Regions from separate parts of the Homo sapiens genome. Here region 1 is linked to region 2. Evidence: fine-mapped expression QTL. A gene starts in region 2. The other region holds a variant in brackets. All regions are shown on one strand. Distances are between the middles of the regions.

Region 1 (8,323 bases), 180 kb before region 2:
GGAGCACTCAAGCCCTCTCTCTCTTTGGGAATACTGTTCTTACCTCATTGCAGTTTTGAACTGGTTTCTAAATAACTGCTGCAGTTTAAGCCTTTCCTCTCCCATACAACTAAACTTTGTACAGGGCTAGATTTCTTAGGTTTCCTGCAGACTCCACGTTTCTTTTCCTTTCTGGTTAGGAAACCAGGAAATTCGGCCACCACTTTCAGGCCATCAAATAATTAGGGCCTAAGAGATGCTAGTCCTATTATTCAGTAGTAACAGTAATTGTCATTGTTGCCATGAACAGGGCACTTCCTTGTGGTAGGCACTACTGTATAGGCACACAGCAACTCATATCTTTACGACAGCCCAACAGGGTTATCGGTCCTTTACAAAGTAGTTTGGCCTATGTGATACTCACTTTAGAGGACCTGAAACAGGTTGTCATGCTCAGAGCAGCAGAAGCTGAGGCGTAACAGTGAAAGCCACGTGAATGTCATCTGGGAAAAACACGGATGGCCAATTCGTAATTCTTTAAAAGTCTTAAAAAACATGGCACCAGGCTGGGCGCGGTGGCTCACGCCTGTAATCCTAGTGCTTTGGGAGGCTAAGGCAGGCAGATCAGGAGGTCAGGAGTTTGAGACCAGCCTGGCCAACATGGTGAAACCCCGTCTCTACTAAAAATACAAAAATTAGCCAGGCGTGGTGGTGTATGCCTGTAATCCCAGCTACTCAGGAGGCTGAGGCAGGAAAATTGCTTGAACCTGGGAAGTGGAGCTTGCAGTGAGCTGAGATCACGCCACCGCACTCCAGCCTGGACAACAGAGCAAGGCTCTGTCTCTTAAAAACAAACAAACAAACAAACAAACAAAACAAAATAAAACAAAACAAAAAAACAAAAACAAACACCAATTAAGATGACAGAAAACAAATAGTTCAGGTATGACTTCCAATCCAAGCACACCTGGGTGGAAGTCTGGTCCAGGGGGCAGTTGTTTAGTGTGTGAGCTGCTTCTGATGTGGGCAACTCTACAAAAGCTTGTTCCAGGATAAGCAGCAGCCAGCTGGTCAGAGATACCCATGGCATGAAAAAAGAGTGCCCTTGCACTGGAGGGCGAGGGGTGAATACTGTTATTGCAGCAGCTCGGACCCCAGGCCTGCTCCTACACTCAGAGCCTCCAAGGCAGAGCTGGCTTCGTGGAGGTGTGATCTGGGCAGTGGCCTAGGGTCCCAGGTTTAGAAGGGTCCCTGCAGCTGATTTAATGCTCTTCTGTCAGGGGTTTCATCAATAATTTATGAATGAGAGAGTCTTCATTTTCATTTTGCAGTGGATCCTGCAAATTATGTAGCTAGCTATGCCCAAGACCTGAGGGTTTGGGGCCACTGAGCTAAATAAACAGAAGTACTCAAGAAGAAATCTAGTAGAGCTGAATTTCTGATGGATATCTTCTTAAAGACAGAAAGCAAATCCCAAATGGAAAGCCAGGCCATTGTTTGTCTCCAGGTCCCCTCTCTCTGCTACATCTTTGGCTTCTTGGTGGTACCCCCACAGGCTGGAAGGACTATTTAGGGTCTCAGAACCAGAGAGGAGAAGAGACTTGCCTAAGATCACACAGCAAATAAGTCGTAGGGCTGGAGCTAGAATAATTATACCAGTTTCCACTTACTTAACATTCATGCTAGGTGCTGTGCTAAACATTTATGAGCATTTTCTTGTTTAATCTTCACAACAGTCTGTAATTTACAGATGAGGAAAGTGAGGCACAGAAAAGTTAAGGCTCTGGCCTTGTGCGGTGGCTCACGCCTGTAACCTTAGCACTTTGGGAGGCTGAGGTGGGTGGATCATCTGAGGTCAGGAGTTCGAGACCAGCCTGTCCAACATGTTAAACCCCATCTCTACTAAATATAAAATTAGCCAGGCATAGTGGTGCATGCCTGTAATCTCAGCTACTTGGGCGGCTGAGGCAGGAGAATTGCTTGAATCCGGGAGGCGGAGGTTGCAGTGAGCCGAGATCGCGCCATTGCACTCCAGCCTGGGCAACAAGAGCGAAACTCCGTCTCGGGGGAAAAAAAAAAGAAAAGTTAAGGTTCTTTCCCAAGGCCCTACAGCAAGAAGTGATGGCATCAGACTTAAGCCCAGGCAGGCTGGCCAGGAATTGGGAACAAAGGGTCCTCATGGGGGATGTCATTTTCTGATCCTCCCTGGCCACTGGCCAAGGCTTTCTTTATTTCTGCTGCTTTTCGTAAATGCAGCAAGAAAGGACTTGCCTCATTCCCTGGAATCCAGAACACGTGTGGGGGCAGCCCAACCCAGGGTAGGAATGCACTATTGACCCTCTGGCCCTGGGTTATGCAGTCAAGGAGCAGTTTCCCTGCTCAGGCGGGGGATGGGGTGCAGTGGGGGCTGGGCCTGGAGACCCTCCACAGCCCCTTAGGGACTAAGTCCAAGGGTGCCTGCCTAGGCCAAGCCTGGGGCCAGAAGGGTCAGCCCAGCCTAAGTGGGTGTGGACGGAGAAGCCAAGGATGCCCTAGGAGCACTGAGGCTGCCTAGAAGGGGCTGCCCTGGCAGGGAGTAGCAGGTAGTTCTGTCACCTCCCTCCACCCTGCTGAGAAGACCGGAAGCTTCCTGGTTAAAGATAGGTGCTGGGTTAGTGAGAGGTGCCGTGGGTGGACAGAGGGGTGCTGGCCAGGGAGGCTGGCAGGTTCAGAGCCTCTCTGATCCCAGCAGCTGCTGCCCAACCCATGGCAGCCCCTTGGGTTGCGGCCTCCCCCTCAGTTCTCAGGTTCTCACCTCTCCCCACCCCAGGGCATTTGTGTGCAGAGAAGAGACAAACTCAAGTTTGTTCTGAGTTCCAGGATCCCAGCCACCTCCCTCCCTGGGGTGGCCTGCCTTGGTGGTCCTCCCTCACTTACTGGGAGATCCTCCCTCCAATTCCCCCACCCTCCAGCTCCCCCAGAAGCCCGAGCCAAAGCCAGTATTTGCGTTCACACAGAGAAGGAGCAGCAGAGAGGCTGGGCAGTGGGATGAAGTCAGCAGTCGCTGGTCTCCAGCCCCGAGTCTTGCAATCCGCCTCCTCCCTGGCTCAGTCTCCCTGAGAGCCGCGAGTGAGTGATGGAGTCAATAGCAACGGACTCAGGACAGACATTCCCCTCCCCGGACAACAAAATGTGGAATGTCTCCTTCTCTCCAGACTGGACTCTTGCTATCGGATTATCAATGAATCAACCGCCAACTATTTCGGGAGCATCAACGGCCCCTGGTTGAGACCATCTGACTCTCCACCCTCTGTCTCAAAGCATCAGACACACAACCACAGACACCGTCCCCAGCATTCCTGTCTGCTTCAGGAGTCATGTAGGTTTGGGGAGACAGGCTGGGTCCCGGAAGGTCTGAGGGAGGAGACGGCAGGGCTGAGTCCTGGAGGCCTTGAAGGTATAACTGGACCCATCTTTGGGGTAGGGCTCACGGAGCCTCAGGGACATCTGGCTGGACGCTGCCATCCACTGGTGCAAGACAGGGGTGGGGATGGGGGGTCAGGGGTAGGAGGAGAATTCATTCCTGGACTGAGGTTGAGGACACCCACTTTTCAAGGTTTTCTGTCTCCCTTATCATGCCCTGGGCAGGATCTTTGTTCACTGACTGTTCCCACTGGCTCCAAACGTCTGGTTAGGGCTATAGTCCTAGCAAGCGCATAGCGCATAGTAGGTGCTTATTAAAGATTTGTTATGAGTCTCTTCAATCAGACCTTTAGTTCCTTCAAGGCCTTATCCCTGTCAGCACCCCACAACACCTTGAATGCAGGAGGTGCCCAATTAACCCTCAGTGGCTGATGGAAAGATGAATACTCACTGCTCTCAAGCCCAAGGGTGCATGGAAAACTGAGGCCCGGCTACCCCACTGCCCCAGGACCCTCTTGATACCCACGGCTCTGCCCTCTCTAGTCCAGGCTTGGCCTCCGGAACCACATACAGGCATACAGGCCTGGCTTGTGCTGGGCACAGTGGCTCCCGTGCAGGCCTCCGAGCCTGCAGAACACCCTGAAGGGCGTTGGCTCCCAGCATCTGCTTTAATGCCCTTCAAAGAGATTTTTAGAAAAATTACCCCTAAGCAGTACAGTCTCTGGCAGGATGGACGCTACAGGAAACAGGAGCCGGAGCAGGAACGACCCGTTCATGTGTAATGTCTGGGGGGAGCAGGGCTTGGTGCAGCCTCCCATGGTGTTTGCTGGGAGCCCCTGAGCCTTTCCTTACCCCATCCCTCCCCTCCTCTGCGTGGGTCCAGACCAATCCCCTGAGCGCTGAGATGCCACGTAAACAGAGCTGTGCATGCACGCAGTGCGCACGCACACACCACTGCTTGGGAAATCCCCACATCTGGCTCTCACGTGACCCAGCTATGCCCAGAAGGCTGCAGCTGAGAGGGCCTGGAAGATGAGAGGGTCGGGAGTGTGCGGCTCTCTGGGGAGCCCCGAGTTAACCCTTCAGCACCACAGCTCGGCGGCTCTGTCTAATGCTAAGCTTCCAGAGAGGGGAGAAGCCAGGAAGGAGGCCTGGTGCTCAGTGCTCAGCCCTGGCCCTGGTTGCCTTTCCCAGCGTGGGAAGGTTGGGACACTTCTCTGGGCCTCACTGGTCTTGACCTGGGATGTGAAAGGGCTGCTCTTTCCCTGTCCTGTCAATCCTGGTCAATCATCAGCCTCTCGGGAGTTCTCACTGGAGGGAGATTCCTTCCCTGATGGAGGATATTTCATGTGCATCTCCTAGTGTCAGGAACCTGGCTGCAGGACAGTGATCCTGGAATCACAAGGAGTCAAGATTCATGGCCTCCTTTGTCTCCCAGGAAACGGCTGGGCTCTTCCTAACAATAAGGAAAAGGTGGGAGGTGGCTCCTGGGCCAACACATATTAATTAGAACATTTTAAACTTCAATAATTTTATTGAACAAGTAGCAATCTGCAATAGCTCCTCTGAAACAGAACCACACAGTAGGTGCTCCAGGGCTATGAAAGAGATGCCC[C/T]ACATGGAAGACGTGGCACATGGGGACAGTGGCTCCTACCACTGAACAGATGTCCTCTGCACAGGTACTGTCCTCTTCACCCAGCTGACCCATTTAGAAAGCTCAGTAAATTAGGCTCAGCAGCCATGCAGGTCTGTGTGCCTTGCTCAGAGACCCCTACATGGCGTGGCCCCAGCCCCGTGCAGCACTTGTGACACTGTTTTAAAACTGCTGTTTCCTTGCCCACCTCCCCCATCTGGCCAGGAGTCCTCTGAGGACAAGGACCTCATTGTCTCCATCTTGGTATCACTGAGGTTCCATCACAAGACCTGTCAGATGTGCAGTAGACAAACCTAGAAGGCAGGCACAGCCAGAGCCAGAAAAGCCAGCTTTAGTCTGGAAGGAGCCACCTCATCCCAGAAGGAAGACCTAGTACCAGTGTCCATTCAGAAACTTGCTTCCTATCCACTAGCCTTCAAGGGTACCCTCCCTGCGCCCCAGGAGACAGCTGCCTAGTGTCCACTGAGCCATGGGCTTGGAGCAGAAGGAGCGAGCCAAGTCATGGAGGAAGGGTGGGGGAGAGGGGAGTTCCCCTGACCAGAACCCTGTGGCCAAATGCAAATGAGCAACTCAGAGCCAGCAGGCTCCAGGACTGTGTATGGCAGGAGCTCACAGGCCAGAAGAACTTGTCCCACCCTGACAGATCTGAAATGAGGGATGTTAAAATCTGCATATTTGCAAGGTCCCCCTGGGGGGGCCATTGCCAACATACAAAGACAGTCTTAGTTTGGTCTGTTGTCACCAGCCTGTCATCACTGCTTAGCATAGCAAGGATCTGACCCTCCAGCTGGGAAGTTATGTACCCAGACCTGATCCTCTTCCAACACTCAAAGAGCCTAAGGTGCTCCAGGGCTGAGCTGAGGACACCCTTACTCACAGGGATCCAGAAGCAGTGACAAGGGGGAGGATGGTGAAGAGATGGCCAGCTCTGCCTTCTCTTTTATTTTATTTATTTATTTATTTTTTGAGATAGAGTCTCGCTCTGTCACCCAGGCTGGAGTGCAATGGCGCCATCTCTGCTCACTGCAACCTCTGCCTCCCCGGTTCAAGTGATTCTCCTGCCTCAGCCTCCTGAGTAACTGGGATTACAGGCGCCCACCACGACACCAAGCTAATTTTTGTATTTTTGTAGAGACAGGGTTTCACCATGTTGGCCAGGCTGGTCTCAAACTCCTGACCTCAAGTAATCCGCCCAACTCGGCCTCCCAAAGTGCTGGGATTACAGGCGTGAGCTACCACACCCGGCCTGCCTTCTTTATGTTTTATTTTGAGATAGGGTCTTGCTCTATTGCCCAGGCTGGAGTGCAGTGGTGCGATCACCATTCACTGCAGCTTTAACCTCCTGGGCTCAACAATCCTTCTTTGCCCTCCCGAGTAGCTGAAACCACAGGTGTGTGCCACCACACTGGACTAATTTTTTATTTTTGTAGAGAAGGGGTCTCACTAGGTTGCCCAGGCTGGTCTCAAGCTCCTGGGCTCAAGTGATCCTCCCACCTCAGGTTCCCAAAGTGCTGGGATTACAGGCGTGAACCACCACACCCAGCAAACTCTGTTTCTGAGCACAAGGAAGCAAAGGGACTTTCTAACATGACCCAGTTGTCTTGGTGCAAGACTTTATTCTAACAATAAATAACAAAATACATTTTCAAGCTGGCTGCTTGGGCCACACATGGCAATGATGAAATCCAGGGGGCAAGGCAGAAAGAAGAGAGTCAGGGAAAAGCATGATTTTCCTGTAAACTTCTAAGTTTTATGGAAACTCAGGAAAAAAATATTTTTTTCTTTCACACTTCGAAACAGACCAATTCTAAAAATGCCACGTGCCGACTAAGTTACACACACCACTTTTCTGTTTCTAAAAGTAACTTTAGATTAGAAAAAGGTGCTAAAACAATAAGTAATGCACATTTCCCCCATGTCTTTGTTTTTCCGCCGGCTTTGTCATCACTGGAAAGGTTGCCTCTTCTGTCACGTGTCTATAAACCAAACGCTGAAGTGAGGAACCAGTGACTTTCTGGCCGTGGGCCACGGTGGGAAACATTTCTTTGCTGGACCACAATTTGGGTATTTCCTCCCCCAGCAACAAAACCTTCTGGAAATGAAAGGCAGATGGTGTCTCTCATCAGGTCAGGGCTGGGTAGGCCCCTCAGATAGCCATTCTCCAAGACTCCAAATGCTGGGCTGTGTTTCAGGGGTAAGAGACTTGGGAGTCCTGTCCTCCATTCCTGCCCCCGTAGCCCACCCTCCCATCTCAGGAGACAACTGAATGTTCTTCAAGGAGCAGTCCCATCCAGGCATCATCCAGGCACCATTCATCTTGGGGATGCCAATCCCCCTGCCATCTTGCTGCCTGTCTACCCTGAACATGGCCATCAACCCACATGGATGACCCATCAAAGACGCAACCCTAGCTTGATTTCAGAAGCCCTGGGAAGCCTGTCAAAAATGCAGATTGGCTGGGTGCAGTGGCTCACGCCTATAATCCCAGCACTCTGGGGGGCCAAGGCAGGAGGATCTGCCTGGCCAACATGGTGTAACCCTGTCTCTACTAAAAATACAAAAATTAGCCAGGTGTTGTGGAGGGTACCTGTAGTCCCAGCTACTCAGGAGGCTGAGGCGGGAGAATCACTTGAACCCAAGAGGCAGAGGTTGCAGTGAGCCAAGATCGCACTACCACACTCCAGCCTGGGTGACAGAGTGAGACTCCATCACACACACACACGCGCCCGCGCGCGCGCGCGCACACACACAAAATGCAGATCGGCCAGATGCGGTGGCTCATATCTATAATCCAGCACTTTGGGAGGCCGAGGTGGGTGGACTGCTTGAGGAGCTTGGGAGTTTGAGACCAGCCTGGGCAATATGGTGAAACCCTGTCTCTTAAGAAAATGAAAAAATGCAGATACCTGGGCGTCACTCCAGACACGCTGATTCAGTAGGTCTGGGCAGGCCCTGGGAATCTGTATTTCAATGAGCAGACTCAAGATTCTGCAGTTCACTTTTGCCCATGCAGTTCCCTTTTGGACCAACTTCCTATTTTCCTAGCAGGAGAAACTGGGTGATAGGAGTGAGGGGGCAGAGGCAGCTGTGCAAGCAGGGCTGAGGGAATTGAGGCTTCCAACTAGCTGCCTCCTTCTGGGGATTCCAGGATCCGGGGAGCGCTTGCCACGCCCCTGCCCCCTCCCCGCTCCGCCTTGCTCTGTGTGTCCAGGCCAATTGGGCAGTGGGGCTCAGCCACCTCGAGCCAGGGAGCGTGGCGCAGACACACACGTGAGCAGCACTCACTTT
Region 2 (8,323 bases):
TCCAAGTTGCAGTTAATTCATCTGTAAAACAGAATCCAAAAACCTACCCCACATTAGGGTACATTCAATGACCTGCAGGAATCACACGAAAACACGAGTGTTAAGTATGTTTCACCATCGATGGTAACTGCTAAACTGGCTATTATTTGCATTCCCCAAAGAGTCCTGCAGAGGATCAGAACATTCATGATTGGTATTTGTCTGAAATAAACAATCAGGAAATAAAACAACTGTGAAAGTGCAATACCTCCCAAATCCAAATAGATACAATTTCTTGTTTGTTTTAGATAAACGAGCTTTTCTCTACCACATGAATTGATATATACCTATACCTGCCTGTGAGCACAAAGAACCCGGTGGACCTGAATTCAAATCTTTACTGAAAAACTTTCAAACGAAGGAATCTGCATTCTGCATCCAGCATCATCAGGACCATTTTCAAGACAAGCGGTCAGAGGCCAAAGCCAGTTTACCTAGGGTCTCCCCAGGCACAGCTCAGAAAGCCAGGAAAGGAGCCTAGCTTCATGCCAGGGAGCCTGACCTTAGTAGCAGCTGCCTGCCCTTCTCAACCCCACCCCAAGCAGGGGCCTGGCAGAGAAGAAGGAAGCCAGGGCTGAGTGCCATCCCCATGATGGAAGCTACTTGCGTGCCTTCATGAACTGACCGAAAGCACAGGACCCTTCGTGTTCAGGCAGCTCCCCCTCCCCGTGGGGATGAGCAAACCCTTTGCAGAATGTCCTGAGAGAACCTTTGCAGTGTGTTCCCAGCACTCTGGAGCCAGCAGAGCTCCTCCTGCGTGGGCCCCAGGCCTCTCATCGGCTAGCTCTGGCTAACACGCACATCCCGTAAAACCTCTCTGCTCTGCAATTTACCAAACCACAGACTCAGAATTCACCATCAGCAGAGGAAAGGCTGGAAGGAGGCTTGCTCCTCCAGTGTAGAGGGTTTCCAGAACACAGGCAATGGGTGCAGCACGTCCTGCCAGCTGACCACACCAGAGGGCCTTACTCACAACACTTGAGCTTTTGGTGTGTGGTATTCACCGTGCAAGGGCCAGGAGAGGAAGAGGCTGCAGCCTCCCCAAACCCGCTCCTCCTGCCCCTGTCTGTCCCACCAGGCCCTTTCTATTGCTTTCTTTCCCCCTTTCAATTATTGGATATGCTTATGTTATGTATTAATATATACAATGCCCCAAATGGGTAGAAACTTTTTGACCACCAGTTATTTGTCCTCTTAGCCAAACCCAACTGGACTTAGGGTACATGCAATGAAAAAAACCCAGCTGTGAGCAGCTGTGTTGCAAGTTACTTTACCCAATCTGGCTCTCCATTTCCTCATCTGTAAAATGAAGGAGTTGAGCCAGATGAGTCTTCGGGTCTCTGCCCGTTCCACAATTCCACAACATGTAACACTTTCTCCTCTCAGTGTTTTCCAGAACTCTAGTTCAGAACTCTGCATGGCCCCATCTGTTCAGTGACATCACTCCCTGCCCCCCCAAACATAATGTCATCGATTCTTACTCGGGAAGCGGAGATGTCCCGGGAAACACTTTGTCTGTAAAAAGGAAGGAAATGATCATTTCGAGGGAACTGGACAGGACTTCTTTTGTGTTTTTCACATAGAACAAGTTATTATCAATCTTAAAACCCAAAATCTTTCTTCCTTTTTGCCAGACCATTAATAGCTGCTTTTCAAAAATACTTTCTTAGTCAGAATCTCACCAATAATAAGCTACCATTTAATAAGAGCTTACTGCGTGCCAGGAACTGGGCTAAGTGCTTTACATAGATGATCTCATTTAATTCTCCCAACAAGTACATACTATTATTATCCTTACTTGAAATTGAGTAAACTGAGGCTGGGGGAGGTTTAAATAACTTGCCAAGGTGGCACAGCTAGTTACTGGCTGCATGCCAGGCTTTGAGCAAGACCGTCTAACTTCAGAACCCCAGCACGCAATCTTGCCTTTCAATCCTGTCTGCAGTGGGCCCCGGTTCTAGTTTGTTACCAGTGTGTCCTGCATCTGCAACCTTGGGCACCATCGGTGGGAGCTGAAATGTGATGTTTCATTTAAAATCCAGAGTTGGAAACGCACCTGCCTGGGTCTCAGAGCAGAGTGCCATCTGTTGAATGCAGTGCCAAGCTCAGCTGAGGACTACAAATGAGAACCCTTAAAACTTAGCCTGCAACATTTGAGAAAAATAAACCCTGGGATATACAAAGGGACATCTGTCCACAGAGCAGGTTGACCACCTGGTGACCCAAGCCCTCCAAAAAGAGCTTTCTTGTAACAGCAGCAGAAAATGCTTGCTGGACCAGATGACACAAAAGAAACAACTCTCTAAGGGTGTCAGGGACTGGACCCGACAGGCACCCACCTCCCTGCCTAGTCAACCTGCCTCCACATTTACCTCCTCCCCATATGAGCCCAGCCGCATTTGCTCAGCTGTAAAGAAACTCAAAGTTCAGAGCTACACTGGTGACAAAGGCAAAAAGAGTAGCCCGAGGCTGACATTGCCACAAACCCCAGTCCCTTTGCAACAGTGGAAGAAAAGGCACTTCAGAGATCAATGTACAATCCAGGGCAGCAACCAGCGCCTGTTTTAACTGTTAAGATTAATGCTTTGAGCACTGGAACTGCTCCTCTAAATACCCAATTTGCAAATAACATGCAGTCCTCTGTGCTTGGGTCTCTTCTATCTCAAGTACAGGAGCACAGACGCTCAGAGGGGTCAAGGACACCGTGTTTACTTCCTAAGGTGTGAGGGATGGGAAGACAGGACCGGCTGAGATGAAAGGGGAACTGTCACATAGGCTCTGGAGCTGCCCCAGTCAACCTTAACCCCTTCTCATTAAAGTTTGGGGGAGGAAGGGGGAGGGGCGGTTCCTCGGAGACCACAGCAAACATTCGCCTCCTCGTGTCTGGAGATGGAGCATCACTTAAGAGGAAATGAACCCGGTTAAGGGTCACGTCCAGAGGAGGGATAAAAGGAAAAGCCACAATTCTCCTCACACCGACGGACACAATGGCTTTATGAGGGAAATCAAAGCTTAGCGCGGAGGGTGGAGGTTGGGCAAGGGGGCGGCGGCTTCCTTCTGCCCCCAGCCCCAGGCCTAGGAAGGCAGAGACAGAGCTGGCGTGGGAGGCAGGGCGCGAGGCTTCCTTCTCCAGGGCGAGCTCTGAAAGCATCTCGGGCTGTGTGAGCGTGAGCGCCCAGGGCCCCTGGGGAGGGCCGAGGAGATGCGCTTTCCCGACGGGGCTGCTCTGTGAGGGGTTGACGAAAGCTCCCCCCACCATCCATCAAAGGCGGACAGATGACTTCACCGTTGTAACAGACAAGGGCAGCCACTTGCCAATTCCAATGCCAAAAAAAGAAACCGGGGGGGCGGGGGTGCGAAGGAGGAAGGACAGAAGAGGCTTCCCTGGAGATCACAGCCCTGCGAAGAAACTCCACGGCTGCTGGCTGCCCAGTGGGCGCTTAGCTTCGCGACCTCACAGCTGGGAGGGGCAAGGGGCCATCCGGGGCCCTCCCGGGACCTCGGGCCACCCCCAGCAGGGTCGGCGGGGGCTGTACTCACGTAGTGCTTGGAGGGGTTCCTCCGCTTCTCCACGTCCACCACGGTGGCATCCTGCACGCAGTAGGCGAGCATCTTCCCCCACAAAGCGAGTGGCGCCCCCGGCGGCGTCACCTTCTCATCCCGGCCGGGCTCCGGCTCCTTCTCCAGCTGCCGGGGTCCCGGGGCCGCCCGCCACCCCGGCCCGGCGCGCCGAACGCTGCCCGGACTCCCGGCGCCCACAGGTCCGGCCCAGGGACGGGGGAGGGTCCCGGAGGGCGCGCGGGCTCCGTGCGCCCCGGGGGACTCCCCGCCGGCCTGCCGCGCGCCCCTTCACTCCCGCGCGGCCGCCGCGCTGCGCTCGCCCGCTCGCTCTCTCCGCCGCCCGGTGGGTCCGGCGGGAACTGGCGGAGCAGAGGAGGGGCGGGGGTGTGTCCCGTCGGCGAGGGGACGGGGCGGGGGCCCCGGAGCCTGCTGTCAGCGTCCTGGGGAGGGGCCGGCGGCTCCCCTTCGCCGCTCTCCGGCTCGGGCTCCGGGGGGATCGGCGCTGGCGGAGGCTGTGGGCGCAGGAGGCGGAGGCAGGGCCTGGCAGGCAGGGAAGGGAAGGGAGGGAGGGGAGAGAGGGGAAGCGCGCGGGGAGGGGCTCCGGGCCGGGGGAGGGGCTCGGGGCGACGGGGAGGGGGCTGCAGCCCGGCCCCAGTGGCAGGGGCGGGCCGACGAGCCCCCACCCGAGCCCAGCGCGCAGCCAGCGGCCTGGCGCAGCACCGGGCTAGTTCGCTAGGCACAAAAACTCAGGGTGGCTTCGGGGGGAGAGGGAGCGGGGAAAGTGAGCCCCGCGCGCCCCCATCCTGGCTTTCCGCCTCGGAGCGGATTTGTGCCTTTTTGTCCCCACTTTTATGTCCCCCTACAACTTCCACCCCCAGATCTCTTTAATGAGAAGTAGTTTATTACCCGGCTGTTACTGCCCAGGCCCCCGAGGAGGAGATGGGAATGGGGAAAAGGCCAGCTTTAAATCCTTCAAGCCAGAGCCTCTTTGGACGAACCACCTGACCCTCTGCAGGTCATAAAGGGTGAATTCTCCCCGGAAAAGTGATCGATTCGTTGCCTGAGTCGTCCATCGATCTGGGCTTGTGTAACTACCCTGTGCATCATTTACCAATGACAACGTTACAGACTCTGCATAACACCACTGCCTTAAGCCCAGGGCTCCCCTGGGGACCCTCCCCAAGCTGGCGACAGGGAAAGGAGCATACAATGGTGGGAAAACCCACCCGGTTGGAGGCCAGCTCACCGTGAGCCCCAGGCTCTGGCATTCTCACCCCTCCCTCTAGTCTGGAAAACCCACTTTCCAAGCCACTTGTCCGTGGTCCCTGGACTTGGAGCACAGTTACTACTTAATTCAATGTAGCTTCCCCCCTTCTAGTTCAACATTTTTTTCCCATTCTGCTTTCAAACATTTAAAGGGTAGTGTTTTCACAACTACTCCAGTTGTTACACAATCACAATAAAGCTTTGTGACTGTGGACCAATGTGAAACATCTGAAAAGAGGACAAATAATTTTGTGACCTAATTGCATTAATACTTTCTTCTGCGCGTTCTCTAGACTGTCAGAACCCAGGCACAGATCTAAGGCTTTATTTATTCACATATTTGCTCCATACAGAGTAACCCACTATTCCTCCAACCTTCCTGGGGAAGGGCGCTAGGACACCAAACGATGGCACGGGACAAAGAAAAAAAAAGATGGATGGGCCTAGGGGGCTCAGACTGTGAGAGATCTTGGCACCAGGCCAGAGCTTCTTGGTCAGAGAAGATGACAGAAAACCTTTGTGAATGTTGGAGCAGGAGTCCTGGGGGAAGGTGCACCTGGTAATGTTGCTCAGCTGATGGGAAAATGGGAGGACAGGGCACTACCTCCATGAGCAAGGATTATTCCCTGAAGGGATGAGAGGTAGACCTGGAACGGGCCCTCCATATTGAGCTCCCGAACTTGGGAGGGTGCTGGCCAGCTCCAGGTCCTCTCTGATGATGGATCAAGACAGCCTGTGAGTTTGTGAGGAAGAGATTCATCATGGCTCTCGGATAACTCGTCTTCTGTGGATGGCAAAGTCTTCTGGAAGTGCTAATAAAACCTGAGAAGCCACCAGCGAGGGGAGCTGGTGTTTAGCTGTTGTGGGGGGAAGAAGAGGAGGGGGTTTAGTTTGATTTGGGTCCCCTTGTGAATCAAAGCAGTCAGCTCATCTAAAACAGCACTAGTGGTTTCCTTATTACCCTTCTTTCGGACCCAGATCCACAATGAACACACCAAGCACAATAAATTTGTAGGAGAGAGGGCCCAGTTCTTCCCCACTTCCTAGCGGCCTACAAAGTGGTAGCCTTTCTCCTGCCTAAAAGACTCCCTGCAACTTGACATTTTATAAATTCAGGCCTTTAAGCCTGACTTGAGCATACTCCCAACTTCCCCCTTTGTTCCGTAATTACCTTTATTGGAGGGAGCAACTGAGTGCTCCCCACTCAACCCCATGGTGCCAAGATCTGGGCAGAAGTTATTTCTACCTGTGGGAGAAAAATGTCTTTTCTGTACTGGGGCCGTATGTCCAAGGGGATTTAAGTATGAAATGGTGCAGGCTATCTCTTCTCTGGGTACATTTCAACCTCATGCAGATTTATTTCCCACAGTGCCTTGGGAATTCCTTTCTGTTCAATACACATTTATTGAATGCCTCACATGTGCCTGGCAATCCCCCAAAAATGACAGAGACTGGGGGAAGTTTCCTTGGAAACAAGGACTGTGCATCATTCATTAAATACCCCAACTATGCGTGGCACACAGTAGGTATATAGGATGGCCTGTGTTGAAAACATCTGCTCAAAGAGCTAGTGCTAGAAAGGATTAGAGAAACCCCTATTTTGCCACCTCCGCCCATGAACTGGAGATGACTCCAACCTAAGGACATTGTGTGAGTTAAAAATGACAAAATATAATTGCAAATTTTTTTTTAAGTTTAGGATAAGTAAGGGAAAGAGAAGCCAACATAAAGATGCAAACTGATACCTGAAAATCTGATTTTCGAAAACAGGTAATTGTAGAATGCTTAGAATCAAAGAACTTTCCAACTAGAAGGGACAAGAGAGGTTATTTATTTCTCTTATTTTACAGAGGAAGAAACCAAGGCCAAGAAAAACTAAGCAAGTTGCTTGATGCCACATAGCCAGTTAGTCCAAAGCCCGCTGTCTTTCCCCTCCACATTTATGTGCCTATACTAGGGCAAGAAGAGCTTGTTTAAAGGGCACACTTAGCACACCTGCAGGTCTAGAATGTTGCATTCACTCAAACCCTGGAGTCCCTGGTTCCAGTTCTCCATTCACACAAGCATATGAACTCGTGATGCCTGGACTTCCCAATAAAGAGGACTGTACAATCCTCTAGAGCAGAGGCCGTGTGTGTCTCCATGGTCCTCTGTGTACGTGCAAATTCCATCAGCTCCCCTAAAGCAGAACCCGCCCTACCTCCTCTCCCATGTAGGGTCTTTGTGACCACCCCCAAAGAAGACAACATGCAGGAAAGTACTGGAAACCACAGTGGGCTATATGAAAGCACAAGAGAACCTTCTCTTCCTCTTCAGAAATCGAATGACAATTGCTAATCATACATTTGTTTACTAATCATACATCACCCTATGACAGCTCAGCCTTCACTGTATTGAACCTTATTTATATCTTTTATTGTTATTTAACTTTCCTGTGCTTTAGGTTGTGCCTTCTAAACCAGTAAGAAGCCTTTGAAGGCCTTGAGGACCATGAACTTAGACATGGACACCACCCTTTCCCTCCCCACCCCCATCATCCAGCACCTCTGTCACCTGCCACACACACCTGCCCACCCAGCGCAGAGCTTTATACATGCCAGGCCCTCAATAAATGGTTGTCTTTTTAAATTACTGGGATCTCAGCAGATATTTGTAGATAATGCTGGGGCTAAGTAATGCCTAAGAAGAAGAAGAATTGGAGTCTCAGAGCAGGAATTACCCAACCTGGGTTCTACTCCTGGCTTAACCACAAACCAGCCTGTGACCTTGAAGTTCTTTCCCACGTCTGGGTCTCTGGTGCTCTTTCTGGCCCTTTCCATGCTGTACAGTGGTGGATAACTTACATAAACTGAGGTCTAGCAAGACTCTCCCCGAGTTGTGTAAATTTGAGTGAAATTTGGGGCCCTCTTCTGGCCAAAGTGGTTTTAGCACTTTTACCTCCTGCCACAGGGACAGGCAGGAGGGCCTGGGACGAATAACCTGCCCTTCTACAGACTGTAAGCGGTCCAGCGCTCATGCTTCTGTCTCTGCTTCTTCTCATCCTCCTCCTCCTTTTTCTTCTCCCCCACTCCCTTTCTCTCTCAAATCAGCCCTGATATATTTATTGACTTATGTTTGGGGAGTGTCTTGAGGACGGTCCCACCGGAGTGTGGAGCAGACAGCAAGGCCAACTGCCCAGGGAAGTAAATTGCTTGTCAGGCTTCTCCTCTCCTTGCTGGGGAACAGGACCAGGATATGGCCCCAGAACTGCCCTACCACCCAGCCCCACTGTTCACGAATTTTAGCCATACTAACAGGCCCCTCCTGTTGCCAAACTACCAGATGGTGGAAGCCGCCTCCGTCTGACACCCAGCACAGTAAGTTCATCAGCAAAATCTCAACATGCTTCTTTACACGGTCCCTTGAGAGTCTCACTCTCCTGTCTTAGCCTGGATTCCGGTGAGGGTCCGTGTGCAGC

What was found. PIP is the estimated chance that this variant, and not a neighbour inherited with it, causes the effect.
Region 1: its variant is fine-mapped to the expression of SH3PXD2A in whole blood (TOPMed, PIP above 0.99).

Annotation. Positions count from the first base shown.
Region 1 is chr10:103,673,997-103,682,319 of GRCh38, forward strand. All of the region lies in intron 6 of SH3PXD2A (SH3 and PX domains 2A), which reads right to left. Among named protein-coding and RNA genes, the nearest start is that of SH3PXD2A-AS1, 69 kb to the right of the region's middle. RefSeq lists enhancers at 4,382-4,441, 4,452-4,621, 7,985-8,323. The variant C/T (reference allele first, on the strand shown) is at 4,997.
Region 2 is chr10:103,851,616-103,859,938 of GRCh38, forward strand. SH3PXD2A (SH3 and PX domains 2A) reads right to left here and starts at 3,961. Exons shown (of 15, transcript NM_001394015.1): 1 at 3,580-3,961. The coding sequence starts at 3,651.